2 separate regions of the Homo sapiens genome follow, and region 2 is linked to region 1. A link means that fine-mapping ties the variant in region 1 to the expression of a gene that starts in the linked region. Tissue or cell type: whole blood. Region 1 holds a variant in brackets; the other region holds the start of a gene. All regions are shown on one strand. Distances are from middle to middle.

Evidence for each region. PIP is the estimated chance that this variant, and not a neighbour inherited with it, causes the effect.
Region 2: GAB2 starts here. The variant in region 1 is fine-mapped to the expression of GAB2 in whole blood (TOPMed, PIP 0.95).

What each region holds. Positions count from the first base shown.
Region 1 is chr11:78,353,928-78,356,774 of GRCh38, reverse strand. All of the region lies in intron 1 of GAB2 (GRB2 associated binding protein 2), which reads left to right. Among named protein-coding and RNA genes, the nearest start is that of GAB2, 62 kb to the left of the region's middle. RefSeq lists an enhancer at 1,472-1,621. The variant T/C (reference allele first, on the strand shown) is at 1,655.
Region 2 is chr11:78,416,414-78,419,056 of GRCh38, reverse strand. GAB2 (GRB2 associated binding protein 2) reads left to right here and starts at 1,237. Exons shown (of 10, transcript NM_080491.3): 1 at 1,237-1,411. The coding sequence starts at 1,337. RefSeq lists silencers at 848-1,467, 1,578-1,677, 1,748-1,877, 2,340-2,634 and an enhancer at 1,497-2,251.

The DNA of each region.
Region 1 (2,847 bases):
TCCACTCTTTGTCAGTGAATATTCAGGTTGCTTCCACCTGCTTTCATTTAACTTTTGTTCTCTACAGATTCCTTACTTCTTGACAGCATGACTCATTTTCAAAATTACTATTTAAGAATATTTTATTTAGCTTTTAAGTTGTTTTCTTTGGGAGTGTCATTCATGGTATCTAGGCTAACTTAATTGCTCAAAACCAAAGTCTTATACCTACTATAGGTGGACCAGAAGACAACCAGAAAGAACATAATTTGACTTTCTTTTGGGATGCTAAAAAGGGAAGATTCTGAGATATGAAACAATTAATATGTAGTTTTGCATGTTTTGATTCTTGAGGTCTGCTATAGGTAATATTTTTTTCCTTGCATGTGAGAAAACCTTAAGAATACTATAAGAAAACATAAACATTTCTGTCTTGCAGGATTTGGCATTGTTACCATGTTGTTAGTACTAACCTCTCACCCTCAAGTGCCCCAATATCCAGTAGTAGCATTTGAAACTTGTACAGAGATAACAAAATCATAAACTGCTTGAGCTGAAGGGGTCTAATTTCTAAACATCACCCCTTCCACCACTGTGTCTTTTTTTTTTTTTTCTTTTTTTTTGAGATGGAGTCTTGCTCTTTCACCCAGGCTAGAGTGCAGTGACATGATCTTGGCTTACTGCAACCACCACTTCCCAGGTTCCAGTGATTCTCCTGCTTCAGCCTCCTGAGTAGCTGGGATTACAGGCACACACCACCACACCCAGCTAATTTTTGTATTTTTATTAGAGACGGGCTTTCACCATGTTGGCCAGTCTGGTCTTGAACTCCTGACCTCAAGTGATCCACCTGCCTCGGCCTTCCAAAGGGCTGGGATTACAGGCATGAGCCACGAGCCACCACACCCAGCCACTGTGTCTTAAAGATGAGTTGGCTAAGGTTAAGTGACTGACCCAGCCAGGGTCCTATAAGGAGTTTGTGACATCAAGAACCTCAGTTGCCTCATTTTAATCTCAGTATACTTGGTACTTCTGTGTACTTTCTCTCTCTGAGAAGACCTGTGATCATTTAATGAGTTCTGAGCTTGGTCTTTTTTTTTTTTTTTTTTTTTTTTAAGTGAGACAGGGTCTCTCTCTGTTTCCCAGGCTGAAGAGCGGTGGCGCAATCATAGCTCACTATAGCCTCGGACTCCTGGGCTCAAGTGATGTTACTGTCTCAGCCTCTTAAAGCACTGGGATTACAGGCATGCGCCATCATGCCCCGCCTGAGCTTGGTCTCTTGAAATGTTGCTGTGGATGTTGATAAAGATGACCTGACACTGATACATGGGTCAGAGTAGAGGCAAGAATTCTCATCTGGTTAACTGGTGAAGATCAAATAGAGTTGGCCTTCCAAATACTATTTCACTCCTGTCTCTCCTGTTCATGGAATCTTTTTTGATAACAGAAGGTTACAGTTGGGTGGGAGAGCTCTTGTGATCATTCGTGCCAATCTCAAATTGCCCACAGGGACGTTTTGGGATCCCCTGCCCAGAAACTTTGCTGTTGTTTATAGATGAGGAAACTGAAACCTAAAAGATGTAAATATGGTTTCCCTCAAGTCACATAAAGTGCTTTTAGCAAAGCCAGAACTGGACCCACATCTCCTAATCCCTATTCCCGTGGAGGATCTCTA[T/C]TACACTAATGCATTAACTTCACTCCTGATCTTTAAGTAAGCTCCACGTCTGTGGTCTCTGTTTTAAGATTGTGAAATGTCATAAAGGTGGTTTGCCTTTGAAAATAAGCCAGAACCTAGAGAGTTAATAGAAATTGAACAGTGAAAGTGGAGTCCTTTTCTTCTCTCCTCAACTGGGGAGCCGCCAGGCTGTTTCACTTGCACCGCATGTGTTCCATTATGGTATAATGATGTAATTACCAGTAATGCTGCTGCTGCTTGAGTAGTGGTGAAGAGGCAGCATTAAGGAAAAGACTAGCCCCAGTTCTCTCCTAAGAGCCATTTCAGCCCACTTCAGTCTATTAGATTGAAGATGCTGGAAGGCGAATGGCTTCAGCACAGGAAAAGGTCAGATTTAAAAGCTTTTCTGGGTTTGGTATTTATTGTTGCTTTTTTGACCTTCAGAAAAGTCCCCTGTGTGTTTGTCCTTGATTCTTGCCTTTCCCATTAATGCTTGAAAGCTGTATTGCTGTCCAGACCAGGTCTTTGGCATAGATGATTTCCTTTGTGGTGTTAGAGAAAGCCTAGCCCCCACTCCAGATGACCAGTCCTGTTGTCGTTCATGCCACCATTGCAGTGTCAAAAGCCTTTTTAACTCTTGAACATTTTAGTTTTCAGCAATTCTGTATGTATATATATATAATATATATGTCATATATGATACAATACATATGATATGATACAGTACAGTACATATGGTCTGTACTAGTATCACATATTCTTTCACAAACTTGCCTAGATCTAAACAATTTATGAATTAATACTTTAAAATACAGAGAAGTAAGCAATAAGACTTGAGTGCCTTGAGCAAACCTTTCTGTGAATCTCTTTCAAAACGTACAGCCTGCCACCTGATGATTATGAGGAGGTAATCATGGTCTCTGGAACACAGTAGACACTTCCAAAAGTGTTCCTTTATTAGAGGGTAGCCATCATTCTTTCAATAATAAGCACCTGCTGGGCCCAAGGTACAGGTTATAGGAAGACAGCAAGTTTTCCTTATTTCAGTAGTTCTCAAAGTGCCATCCCTGGACCAACAGCACCAACATCACGTAAGATCCCCTGAGAAATGCAAATTCTCAGGCCCCCAAGCCAGAGCTACTGAATCACAAATTCTAGGCTGGGAGCCTTCAGTCTGTGTTTTACCAAGCTTT
Region 2 (2,643 bases), 62 kb before region 1:
TCAGCTGCACAGAGACAGAAATAAACAAAACAGCTTTAGTCTGAGGTTGTGTGGGGCACTGCAAGATGCTGCTTCTCCAATTCATCTGTCCACACAGCACGGTTCCCCATTGAATAAACAGGTTACTATCCACTTATCAGAGAAGTTAGGGAGGACCTGCCTTTTAATGCTGCTTAGAGAGACACTTTGTGATGAGAAAAGAGCTCGTACAAAAGATTTTTTTCTCCCCCCTCCCGCTGAAGTGCTGGGGTTGTGTGCTTCCACGTACATCTGGGATACCATTATATTTACAAACAGAGGTCTCATAGCCTGTGTCAATGAGCGGGAACGTTGGGGAATTTGGACCCCAATTTCTTGTTCTTCTGCACTTGACCTTGCCTTCCAATTCGTTATGAAATACATTGACTAGTTTTGCTTCTTCCATTCTACAAATCATGCGAATTTTCTATACTAAACTGTGTTTTCCCAGAGGCAGTGTAGGAGGGAGTCAGCTGGACTTGGTTTCCAGGCAATGAGAGGCTCCCAGGTCGATCCCATTAAGGCAATGCCCTCATTTTGAATAGCAGATGACCGGGACCCCTCCTCCCCCACACACCTGAATTGGAAAATTGGCTCGGCTTTGTACAAGCCCTTGCCCTTAGGCTGTCCATAAAATAGGAACAATACTGAAGACAATCCTGTAAGCTACAAAAGCAAAGGCTCCGGCGCGTAGTAGGTCCGTCTCCTCCTCCCGCCGAGGGACGCCAGAGTTAAGGAGCTTCTTGCTGGGAAGGGGTCCCTCCTTTCAGCCGGAACCTGACCCGCAGAATGTATCGGAAATGTGAGCAGCCCTAGTATCCCTTCCCCGTCGACGCTCGGTGAAAAATCGATCGACGACCGAGGGCGCGCAGTCCCTTCCCCTCACACCCGCCAGCGCCAGGGGCGCGGTCGCCTCCCTGGCCTCCGCGCCCGCGGCTTGGGGCCTCAGGAGAAAGCGAGACTCCGGGGCGCGCCGGCGGCGGTGGCTTTCTGTATCCTCGCGGGTCCCTAGCCCCGCGTCCGCGTGCGCGGCGGCCTCGGGGGCGCGGCGGGAGCGGGCGTGGCGAGCGAGCCGGCCTTCCTGCTGCAGCTGCTCCCCCGGCGGCCGGGCGGAGAGTGCGGATTGCGCGCGCTCGGGGCGGGGGAGCGGGCGCGCGCGAGGCTGCCGGGCTCGCGCCGCGCCGCGCCGCCTAGTCCCCGCCGGGCCGCCCGCCCCGCCCCTGGCCTCCCGCGAGCTGCGCACCGCCGGCCGCTGCCCCAGCTGCCCGAGCCCGCGCCCTCGTCCGCGCGACCCGGCGGGGGGCTCCAGGCCGGCAGCATGAGCGGCGGCGGCGACGTGGTGTGCACCGGCTGGCTGAGGAAATCGCCTCCCGAGAAGAAGTTGAGGCGCTATGTGAGTGCGGGCGCGGCCGCCCAGGGGCGGGCGGGGGGCGCTCCGGGGCCTGCGGAGGGGCGGGGGACTCCCGGAGGGGCGGCAGGCTGGGGAGCTCGGGCCCGGAGCCGCGGGGGGCCGGGGGCGAGGAGCGGCCGGGGGCGTGTGGGGCACCTGCACACCTGTCACAGGTGGGCCGCCGAGGGGCGGGGCGGGCGGCAGGTTGAGGCTGCGGCTCCTGCTCCGCCAGGCGGGTGCGGCTGCGGCGCCTCCCAAGCCGGTCTGCTCGTGAACTAAATACAGTGTCGAAGTTTTGTATTGATGGCTTCTGGAGACCGAGAGAGTTGACTCTCGGGGCTGGGGCTCCGCGGCAGCCCCGAGCAGCTTCAGCCCGCAGGGTCGGGGAGAGGGCGGGAAAGGGGGGCGTAGGCTGTGGGGCCGCGCGGACGGCCCCACAAAGGGCGAGCGCCTCACGCCCTCTCCTTCCCTTTCTCCGCCTGCCCCTCCCGGCCGCCGGCCTCCCTCCGTCCGCGGCTGCATCACCGGCAGCGTCAGCGGCATGTGCAGCCCTTGTATTAAGTGACTCATTTGTTTGTCCCCCTTCTTTCCCTTTATTCCGTTCGTCTCTCACAGGCGCCTCCCCCCGACCCCGGTGTGACACTGCAGTTTGGTCCCCGTGGCTGGCCCGGGTTTGGGACCGGGCAGCTCCCGGGTGTCTGGGGTCGGGAGAGATCGAGGCTCTCCGCGGCCAGGTGTTGCCAACCGACAGTGTTTACTGAGATCGCTGGAACAGCCTTTTCCCTCTAGGTGGGGAACTGGCAGCCTGGGGGAGGTGGAACAGCGTGGCGCTGAGCCGTGGAGTTCTGGCTTTTTTTTTTTTTTTTTTTAACCCCTCTCCCCAGAGGATGCCTTGCCTGGTGAGGTCAAAGTACAAGATGGTGCCAGTTACTGAGATTTGGCCGAAATGGTCTTGGGGTAGTCGCGGGAGTTTGGAAGTGGGGGTAAGGTTGCTGGAAGGTTTCAAGGTCTCTCATCTGCTCCCTCTCCGTTTCCCATGAAATGCCCTTGTTTAACGGGCTGTGGTGCCGAACTCCGGGATCACTCCCACAGCCTGGAAGGGAGCCGTTGCCTCCAGCTGCAGTGCATCAAGGGAGCTCGGAATAGACCCTGCCCTCTGTCAGCTGCACCAGTGGCTGTCCATGGGGGGAGAGGCAGAAGCCTACCAGAATTTCCTGTCTTGGCTCCCCAGATCA